Regions from separate parts of the Homo sapiens genome. Here region 2 is linked to region 1. Evidence: fine-mapped expression QTL. A gene starts in region 1. The other region holds a variant in brackets. All regions are shown on one strand. Distances are from middle to middle. Region 1 holds the start of DENND6B (DENN domain containing 6B). Region 2 overlaps PLXNB2 (plexin B2).

Region 1 (5,472 bases):
CTGAGACTACAGGCACCAGCCACCACACCCGGCTAATTTTCTGTACTTTTAGTAGAGATGAGGTTTCACCGTGTTAGCCAGGATGGTCTCGATCTGCTGATCTGCTCGCCTTTTCGGCCTCCCAAAGTGTTAGGATTACAGGCGTGAGCCACCGCGCCCGGCCTTCAGCCAGTCTTTAATCTGGTCTGGAATAAAGTTCTGCCTCCTACCTCAAAATCAGAGTACATCTTACAATGATGGCATGCAATAACCACAGGGGAAAAAAATGCTCAAGACCATTAGTAATCAGGGAAATGCAAATCAAAACCACAAGAATACCCAGGCACGGTGGCACATGCCTGTAGTTACAGCTACTTGGGAGGCCAATGAAGGAGGATCCCTTGAGCCCAGGAGTTCCAGGCTGCAGTGAGCTATGATGACATCACTGAACTTCAGCCTGGGTGATAGGATGAGATCTCTTCTCTATAAAATAAACAAAATTTTAAAAATCACAAGATACCACTACCCACTCATTGGCTGGCTACAATGAAGACGCTTGGCAACACCAAATGTTGGGAAGGATGTGGAGCAAAGGAAACATAAACTGTTGGTAGGAATGTTTCCATTTTCTTTTTTTATCTTTTTTTGAGACAAAGTCTCGCTCTGTCACACAGGCTGGAGTGCAGTGGCTTGATCTCGGCTCACTGCAACCTCCACCTCCCAGGTTCAAGCGATCTCATGCCTTAGCCTCCTGAGTAGCTAGGATCACAGGTGACCGCCACCATGCCTGGCTAATTTTTGTATTTTTTAGTAGAGACAGGTTTTCACCATGTCGGCCAGGTTGGTCTCAAACTCCTGACCTCAGGTGATCCACTAGCCTCAGCCTCCCAAAGTGCTGGGATTACAGGCATGAGCCACCTCGCCTGGCCTGGTAGGAATGTTTTTAAATGTATGGCTGCTTTGGGGAAAGCTAAACATATACCCAGGTTATGCCTCAGCAATTTGGTTTCTATGCACGCCCAAGAGAAATGAAAATGAGCCCAGGCAGCACGAGACCCCATCTCCACAAAAACGAACAAAAAATAAAAATAAAAAAATAATGGGGTATGGCGGCGTGTGCCTGTAGCCTCAGCTACCTAGGAGACTGAGTGGCAGGATAGCTTGAGCCAGGAGATCGAGGCTGCAGTGAGCTGCAATGGGCCACTGCACTCCATCCTGGGAGAGAGTGAGACCTTTCCTCTAAAAATAAAAATAAAAGCTATACAGTCGGGCCTGGCATAGTGGCTCACGCCTGTAATCTCAACACTTTGGGAGGCCGAGGCGGGCAGATCACCTGAGCTCAGGAGTTCGAGACCAGCCTGGCCAAAATGGTGAAACCGTTTCTACCAAAAATACAGAAATTAGCCTGGCGTGGTGGTGCACGCCTGTAATTCCAGCTACTCGGGAGGCTGAGGCAGGAGAATCGCTCGAACCCAGTAGGCAGAGGTTGCAGTGAGCCAAGACCATGCCATTGCACTCCTGCCTGGGCAACAAGAGCAACATTCTGTCTCAAAAAAAACAACAGAAACAAACAAACAAAAAACAATACGGCCATGTGCTACTCAACGGTGAAGCTATGTCCTGAGAAATGTGTCATTAGGCGATTTTGTTATGTGACAAACCTAGATGGGACAGCCTACCCCACACCTAGGCCAGATGATCCGAACAACACGTGGTAATCTTTTATTTTTTTATTTTTGAGATGGAGTCTCACTCTGTCGCCCAGGCTGGAGTGCAATGGCGACATCTCAGCTCACTGCAAGCTTCGCCTCCGGGGTTCAAACGATTCTCCTGCCTCAGCCTCCCCAATAGCTGGGGTTACGGCGCTCGCCAGCCACCACGCCCGGCTAATTTTTGTATTTTCAGTAGAGACAGGGTTTCACCAGGTTGGTCTCGATTTCCTGGATTCGTGATCCGCCACCCCACCTCGGCCTCCCAAAGCGGTGAGATTACAGGCGTGAGCCACCGCGTCTGGCCAACACGTGGTAATCTGAAGGGACCACCACAGTATATGCGGCCCGCCTTCCACGGAAACGTCATGAGGCCCACGACTCAAAGGCGTGCCTCATTAAGTTACCGACAGCCCCAAACTCGCCCTTCCACGCCGGGCCTCAAGGTGCTCTGTGGACCACAGCGGGGCCCGGGGCCCTCGCGAGGGAGGGAAGAGTTCGCTCCAGGTCCCCGCGATTCCCCCGGAAAGTGAAACTGCAGAGGTGTTGCGTGGACACCCGCGGTCAGACACGACCCCAGGCCGCGCGGGCCCCAGAGGAAGCGAGCGCGAGTCCGCGGTGGTGGCTGGGCGCTCAGTGAGGACGCCATTCCGCCACGAAAACGCCCGCGACGCCGCTGGCCCCTGCGCGGTGGGGCGAGGTAGGCTGGCCGGACCTGCGAAGCCCGACGAGCCCGGCGCCGGCTGGCTGCAGCTTGCTCTGCCTCCCTGGCCTGGCCCCGAGGCTCCCGCGAGCCGGGATCCGCGAACACCGGGGCCGAACCGACTCTCTCGGGCCTCAGACGGCGTGGACCCTGGAAGGCCCCAGTTCGGCCGCTTCCCCGGAAGTCCCCCAGTGGGCTCCGGCCGCTCTGGCCCGCGCGCGTCCGGCTCGCTGGTGCCCTGGGCGGCGCCCGGCCGCTGGCGCTTCTCGGGCGCTAGGGGGCGCGCGGCCGCGCGGGAGCCGCACTGGGCCGCGGCGGCCGCTCGACTGTTCTGAGGAGCGGCCCGGACGCGCGCCGCCCCCGCCCGCGTTTCCCCGGCAACCCGCGGCCGCCGCCATGGACGCGCTGTTGGGCACAGGGCCTCGCCGGGCTCGCGGCTGCCTGGGCGCGGCTGGACCCACGTCTTCAGGTCGCGCGGCGCGGACCCCGGCGGCGCCCTGGGCGCGCTTCTCCGCCTGGCTGGAGTGTGTGTGCGTGGTCACCTTCGACCTGGAGCTGGGCCAGGCGCTGGAGGTGAGCGGGCGCGAGCGCGGGCGCGGGCGGGTGGGCAGGGCTGCGCCTCTCGGGGCCAGTCCCGCCTCGCTTGGGGCCCTCGGCCGCCCCGCACTCTCCCTGGCCTTCGGCCGCCGCCTCCTGGAGGGGCCTCTTCTCCGGGCTCCAGAAGCGCTCCCCAGGCCGAGGAGGGAAGGCGAGCTGCTCGGAGTCGGATCTTGTCTTCACATTGGGATGGAGCATTTTGCATAACCTAAGTGGTACTCTTTCGATTTTTCCCAGTAAATGTCTCACATCTCCCCCCTCCATTCCCCACCGGAGCAGTGACACCTTCATCCCCTCAGTGGCTCCCGCCAGAGTCCCGGGCTTACCCTCCGCTCCGCATCCCATCTCTGGGCATAGGCGAGGCTGACGGCTCCTTCTGCAACAAAGGTCTCGGATCCGTTCCTTTGCTGCCATCACTGATGTCATCCCCACCCCAGCTGCACCCCAGAGTTCAACCTTTGTGGCTCTCCTGCTTAAAACCCTGCAGCGCCTCCTTGTTCACCTAGCATCAGATCCAGACCCCATGGGCCCCGTCCCTCCACCTGCGTCTTGTGGTGTTCTTGCTCGTGGGGGTCTGTTCATCGGCTGTGCCCATGGGCTTTCGATGTGGTCTTTCTGCTGCCTGCAGGCCTCCACTCACCTACCCACACAGGCAGCCTCCTTTCCTCCAGGGAGGCCCCGCAGGATGATCTTCTCTGTGTCCTGTGTAACACACACCAGGGAGCTGACCAGCACAGGGGAGGCCCACCTGCAGATGGAGGGAGGCTTCCCCGCGCTGGCGCAAGGAACCTCGTGAGGGGTAGTGAGCTCTCTATTACCGCAGGTGTCCAAGATCAGGCCAAATCATCATCATCAGGAAAGCCAGGCAGCGCGTCTCTGTGGTTGGGAGATGCTTTCTAAGGCCCTGCTGAACTCCAAGAGGCCATGAGAAGCATATAGTCTTCTAAACAGAAAAGCATTAACTCTAGCACTCTCTGGAGCCCCTCCCACCACACACGGTCCCCAGCAGGTGCACAGCCTCAAACAGCATCACTGGGTGGGGGCTGAGTACCAAGAAGTGTGGTGACCTGCCCAGGGTTGAAAACCTTTCTTAGTTCAATACTGTTGCCCAGATTGTTCCCCACAAAATCACAAAAGAAGTTAAGAGGTTCCTGGCCGGACGCGGTGACTCATGCCTGTAATCCCAGCACTTTGAGAGGCCGAGGCAGGCAGATCACAAGGTCAGCAGTTTGAGACCATCCTGGCCAACATGGTGAAACCACATCTCCACTAAAAATACAGAAATTAGCCGGGCGAGGTGGCACACTCCTGTAGTCCTAGCTACTCGGGAGACTGAGGAGGAGAATGGCTTGAACCCGGGAGGGGGAGGTTGCAGTGAGCAGAGATTGCACCATTGCGCTCCAGCTTGGGCGACAAAGTGAGACTCCATCTCAAAAAAAAAAAAAAAAAAAAAGGAGGTTCCTCTGTTCCTTAAGACATTCTCGTGTTATTTTCTAAAACCCATTCGGAAAGTTATTTCTGAGCTGTTGAAGGCTGTGTGTGCTTGGACTCCTGAGCTTTTGCTGGGGATGCTCAGCTCGGACTAGGGGCATGGTCAGCTGGCAGAGTGTTGGGGACCCAGGTCCATGAGCGAAACCCTCCATAGCAATGATCTGGGCACCTGCAGATCACTGAGTCTGTGCAGAAACCTGGCAGTGGATCCACCGGGGCCTGAGCACATGACTCTTGCCTTTCCTCCCTCACCTGGAAGTCACAGGGAAGATCGAGGTCGTTTTAGTCACTTACAGACTTAGGGAGCACCCACTGTGCAACTCAGTCACAGCTCAGCCCAGCTAAGCACTGCAAAGCCCCAGGACTGTGCTTGGTTCTGCGATATGGAAGGAAGACTCTAGTTGGGATGCATGCAGCTCAGAGGAAGGAATGGGCTTAGGTAAATAAGTCTTGGATGCTGAGAAGAGACAGGGGAGGGGGTCCTGTTTCAGGTAACCCCTCTCCCAAAATGCCAACATAAGCAAAAGGCAAGGAGCTGGTGATTCAGTTACTCATTCAGTAAATCACTTTGAAGGCTGGGCATGGTGGCTCACGCCTGTAATCCTAGCACTTTGGGAGGCCGAGGCGGACAGATCACCTGAGTTCAGGAGTTTGAGACCAGCCTGACCAACACAGAGAAACCCTGTCTCTACTAAAAATACAAAATTAGCCGGGCGTGGTGGCGCACGCCTGTAATCCCAGCTACTCAGGAAGCTGAGGCAGGCAAATCGCTTGAACCCAGGAGGCGGAGGTTGTGGTGAGCCGAGATCGCGCCATGGCACTCCAGCCTGGGCAACAAGAGTGAAACTCTGTCTCAAAAAACAAAACCGTAGATCACATTGAGCAGCTATCACCAGCCCAGCCCCACAATACTGGTGCCCAGCATGTAAGTGAGTAGACAAGGCTCTTGCCCTTTAGGAGTTCACACTATGTGCCAGTGATATGGAGAGTAAG
Region 2 (5,231 bases), 23 kb after region 1:
GCCCACCTCTGTCCCGGGGGGTCTGGGAGGCCTGAGGTCTGGCCAGGGGTTCCTTGCCCCAGTAGAGGAGGGAAGTTACTGAGAAAAACAAGGGTTTGGAATGTGAGTCCCCCTCCCCCACCGGCTGCCTGCCAAGAAAGAATTATTTTGGATCATCCAGCCGTGTCCAGTCACCCGAAGCGGGAGGCTGCAGCGTGGGAGAAGGATCCACTTCCGGGACGTGGGTTGAGGGCCCCAGGAGGAGGACGGGCAAGTCCGGGCAGCTCTGCCACTTTCTACTGCAGCTGCCCAGACTGGGCGGGGAGAAGATGCGTCACCTTTGGGTTGGAGAAAGCCCCAAGGTTGGCCCCAGCAGGCCCTGCTGAGCCTGCAGTGGGCCCAAGCCCCTCTGGGGGAGACCATGGAACAGGAGGAGCTCTGGGCCCACCCAGGGACCCCCTCGCCCCACCCAGGGACCCCCTCGCCCCGAGAAGTCTCAATGGTGGTCTGAAGAGCCTCTGAGGTACCCTCCAGGCCCAAGTTCAGGGACACACCCTGTGCCAGTGACCTGTGCGTGCCAGGGAGGAGCAGGCAGGAGCGAGGCTAGGCTGCTAGGGAGGGCACTGGGGTTTCCCTCAGGGGGCCCTCCTGCCCCAACGGACTCCCTATTCAGCTCCTGACTAACGGACCAGCCTCCCTCCAAGCCCCTCCGACAGCCAGTCCTTGCCTACGACCCCCTCTGGATATGGCGCCTGTGAGCCCATCCTGCAGGTGGGGAGACTGAGGCCAGAGATAGGTCTATGTGAGGAGTCATCTGCGATGCTGTGTGGCCAGGGCTGTGGCTACCTGGCGCTCTGGGTCCATGCTGTGTGTGCGCCCGGGGTGTGTGCCCGGCGGCCTGCATGGGGACCACATCGGGGAGGAGGAGCCGGCAGCTGGCCCCAAGTGCAGAAAGCCCAGAGCCTTGGACCCGGCCCAGGGAAGTGGAGCAGAAGAGATTGGATTGGAAGGTGGTGGGGAGGGCCCATATGGCACAGTCCTCCTCCCATCCCAGGACGTCGTCCGTGCTCACCGTGTCCTGCCCCCTGCCTCACCCTGTGCCAGCCACAGCTGATGGTCCCCCTGGGACGCGGGCGTGGGCAGGGGTGCACTGGCTGGGAGAGGCTGTGTCTTCCGGCCCCTCATATTGTGCCTTCTCTGAGCTAGGCAGGCACTTGGATGCCAGGCCTCTGCCACGAGGGCTGCCTTCCCCTGAGCTGGGAGTTCTCACTCAGCTCATGCCTCCGTCCCTCTGGCTGCAGCCTGGCCGCCCTCCTTGGAAGTTGGCGGGGAACCTCTTGTGCCCAGAGCCTGCCTTGGACACGGTTTGGGGATGAGGTGGTGAGCTGCTCAGAATTCACCCAGTGGCCAGCAAGTGGCCCCCCAGCCTTGACCTCCCTTCTCTGAGGCAGATCCAGGTTCTCTGGGGGTGGGAGATTCAGTAGGGCTGGGACTGGCCACAGCCCCTCCCTCCCTCAGGGGTAGTGGCTGTTTGTGTTTGGGGTGGGGCTGTGGGTGGGGTGGGGCTGGGTCTCTGACTAATTACACGATGGGGAGGGTGGGTCAGAGCCTTGGCTGGTGGGGGGTGCTCAGGCTCTGGGGCCCCGGGGAGGCAGCTGCCCTAGCTTCCCTCTTTCTGGTCGAGGTTCCTCCACCTTCTTCCTTTCCGTGGTTTCACATCCCTTGACACAGGGCCTGCTTCTTCCCATACCCCTGGATTGTAAGGACCCCTGCCTTTCTCTGCCTACCAGGGAAGGACCCTGCACTGTTCTGGGCTCCCCCAGCCACAGGTGTGGCCTCAAGCCAGGCCCTGACACAGTGGCCCTCCTGGCTCAGAAGCCTTCTCTCTGAAGACCAAGCGTGTGAAGGGATTGGCTGGGCCCCTCCCGTCTGGCCCTGAACACTGGCACCCCGCACCCCCCCAGTGGATCCACCCTGCCCTGTG[A/T]GATTCATGAACCTGTGACAGTGACTGGCCCCAGGCCCAGTGGTGCCGGGGATGGTGGGACAGGCTGCCCCTGGTGGTACTGCAGGTTTGCCCCACCCCCGGGGATGTCTGTCTGGGGAGGAGCCTGGGGCTGGCCTGGCTGTGGAGCTGGGGGTTCTGTTTCGCACAGTCCCGCCTCTGCAGCCCAGATCCTGGAGCCCTTCACACCCAGAGGCCAGCCCACACCGTGGCCCGCTATGGTTGGTGGCCTTCCCTGGGGGTAGCCCCTAAGGCCACACCTGAGCTGCCTCATGTCCCAGGCTAGGTGAGGGAGGAGACTGCCCTGGGCTGGGATCAGGGCGCCTGGGGGCAGGTCCAGCTCTCTTCCTCAGCCCCCTAAGGTCTCCTGGCTTCTGAAAGCCAATAGTTCCTCATTCCAGTGCCAGCTGAGTCCCGGCCCAGGCCTGGGGCAGGAGAGGGAGGTGCTGCCCCAGTTCAGCCACCAGCTCTGCCAGCAGGGTCCCAGCAGCAGCAGCATCAGAGGCAGGGACTGGGCTCCTGGGGGTAGGGCCCCGGCCCCTCTGGCACAGCTGGTCAGCAGCTTCCATGGGGGGCCCTGTGTGGAGACACAGTGTCCAGCACCGATTTCTGGGCCTGATGCTGCCCCAGCTGAGTCCCGCAGCAAGCGCAAGAGAGAGAAGTGCTTGGTGTCCACCTCTGAGAAGGCCTCCTGTGTGAACACGGCCCCCTGAGGGGCCAGGCAAGGGCGTCTGCTCCTGTGGCTGGGACGGTTCCTGCCCACGAGCCTTGTGTAGGGCTGCGGCTCTCTTCCCAGGTGACCTTCTGTTGTGGTCTGGGGCCCCCGAGCCAGCATGCCACCTGCTCAGAGACAGATTGGGCCCCCTGTCAGATTGGCGTCTGGGGGCACTGTCTGCTCCTTCCAGGCAGCTTTGAGGACTTCTCAGAGGAGGAACCCCCCTGCCCTGCTGGTCCAAAGTGGGGTGCTGAAGGCCGAGGCAGTTTCCAGGGGGCTATGCCTCAGGCTGCGTGGGTGGCTGTGGTAGGAGCGTGCTCTGTGATTGTCACTGCATTTGCCTGGGGTCCATGCTCTGTCCTCAGCTGGGGTCTGGCTTTGAACCTAGGTGAGTTCTGGGGCTCTGAGGACAGGCCAGAAGCAGGAGTGTGGGGGGGTCTCTCCTGGGGGAAGCAAGGGAGGCCTGGGCCTGTGTGACTCAGACGTGGTAGGGTGGCATGGGAGCCACAGCTTGGGGGGATGGCGGGGGGCTTGAGGGTAATCCAAGTATTTCAGGGACCCAGCCATGGAGAGTGGGGTTTGAGGACCAGCAGGAGGTGAGGACTCTGTGGATCCCAGCCCTGTCAGGTGTGTTTTCAGAGCTGGGGCCTGCTTTGGAGGAGATGGAGGGCACAGAACACTGCTGAGCCCAGGCCCTGTGCCCAGCCTTGCTCCAGCCTTACCGGCTTGACACCAGGGCCTCCCTCCCACCAGCGAGGGGGAGAAGCTATTTTAAGTGGAGCCAGCAGTTGACAGGGGCAAGGGGCAGGTGGTGGGAGGGAGGTGCTCCAGCATGGCCCCCCCCACTCCCTCTCAGCCTCAGAGATTGGCCAGGGGAGCTGAGGGGCTTGGCCTCCCCACTCCTATGTTGGCACCGAGCCTGATCTGGTGACCACCCTGAGGGACTTCAGGAGAAAAGGATGTTAGGGAGGAGGGCGTGAAGGTGGGGCGCCCCAGGCAGGCCGCCCAGGCCCAGCAAAGCTCGCTGGAGGGTCCCCCAGTTCCACATCTAGACCTGGGGCCCAGTGGCTCTCGACCAGGCCCTGTGGGGTTTGAAGTCCTCAGCTCCACCATGAGCAGAGCAAGCCTCCGCGTGGAGCAAGGGGCTGGACCTGGCCTCCAGGGGCACCCACCTCCCCACACAGCTCCAGCCACGGGCATCACCTCCCACTCACTGTCCTGCCCCCACTCTGAGATGGGCATTTCCTCACTGGGAAATCCCTGTCCCTCTGGCCTCCCAAAGCCCTGAGTGTTTGCCCCTGTGGGGCCCAGCCCACACCCTGGGCTGCCTCACCCTTGGCCTGGACCCAGGTCCTGCCCAACACCCTGTGCCTCACCAGCCCCCAGCTCATCCTGGGCAGACGCAGCCCCTCTCCCCTGCTGAGACGGCCCTGCCCCCACCCCACTTCCCCATGCCACACATGGCCCCTCCCTCGGGGCTCCAGGCAGCGCTGGGTTCTGAGAGCCCCACTGCCCCTCTTAGCCCAAGTGCCCCGGCCTGAGGCTTCTCTCCCAGGCTCTTTGTACTGGGGACGAGTTCTGGGTGTTGGGGTGAGACCCTGTTGGCAGGGCTTTTCCGGCAGCACCCAGCCATGTGTGTCTGCACATGTGTGGTCATGTGTGCAAGTGGTGTCTGGCACACAGGCTTGGCGCGGTGCCCCAAGCTAATTGTGGGGTTCAGCGGTGATGGGCGAGGCGGGGCTGGGGTGACCGCTGAGGCGCTGACAGGCTGACGGGGAGATTACAGGCCTTGCTTACTGCTCACTGGCTGGGGCCTCACCCGTCCACCCCCCAACGCCCACCCCGGGGGTGAGAAGGGGGCTGTGGGCGGGGGCTGGTCTTGAGCCAGCTGCATCCAGGCAGGACCTGGTCTCTGAGCAGCCGGCTGCTGCGGGGTTGAGCTGGAAAGGGGGAGATGCGTGGGGGCCACTCAGAGGAGAGCCTGCAGGTGGGGCTGGGCACCGGCGGGCCGGGAGGCCTCCTTTCAGGAGAGACTCCAAGTGACTGAGCCCCAGAATCCCACGAGAGTCCCTCCGTGGCCGCCTGCTGTCTGACCGCATGTCCTGTCCTGATGAGTTGGTGGTTCCTGCTGTAGCCATCGGCCTCGTGTGCCCCGAGCGCCTGGCGGTGCCCACCCCTCCCACAGGAGGTCCTCAGGAAGCACGGAGACATCGGTAGGTTCATTGCGCTGCCCAGCTTTCTGACCCGAAGGACCACGGTGTAGCAAGAGGGGGCTGCAGCTGTGCCCAGGTTGGACAGGATGGGGTCTGGGACCCCGAAAGGGGTGGTTGAGGAGAGAGGTGGTTCTGCAGGCCTGGTGCGTGTGGGGACAGGGCGCCGTAGCCAACTGGATCCCACCTTCTGTCTGAGGGCTGGGGAGGACCATCCTCCAGATGCGCCAGTGGGCCGTGGCCAGAGAGGAGGCTGAGGAGGGCCTCACAACTGTGTGTAGGATGGGAGGGCAGCCTGGGGCCCCAGTCTAGGGACGCACCATAT

Evidence for each region.
Region 2: its variant is fine-mapped to the expression of DENND6B in whole blood (TOPMed, PIP above 0.99).

Annotation. Positions count from the first base shown.
Region 1 is chr22:50,324,304-50,329,775 of GRCh38, reverse strand. DENND6B (DENN domain containing 6B) reads left to right here and starts at 2,764. Exons shown (of 20, transcript NM_001001794.4): 1 at 2,764-2,964. The coding sequence starts at 2,788. RefSeq lists a silencer at 2,376-3,015.
Region 2 is chr22:50,301,025-50,306,255 of GRCh38, reverse strand. The region is part of intron 1 of PLXNB2 (plexin B2); the gene reads left to right. Among named protein-coding and RNA genes, the nearest start is that of PLXNB2, 4.0 kb to the left of the region's middle. RefSeq lists enhancers at 1-367, 1-956, 4,703-5,231 and a silencer at 4,516-4,565. The variant A/T (reference allele first, on the strand shown) is at 1,964.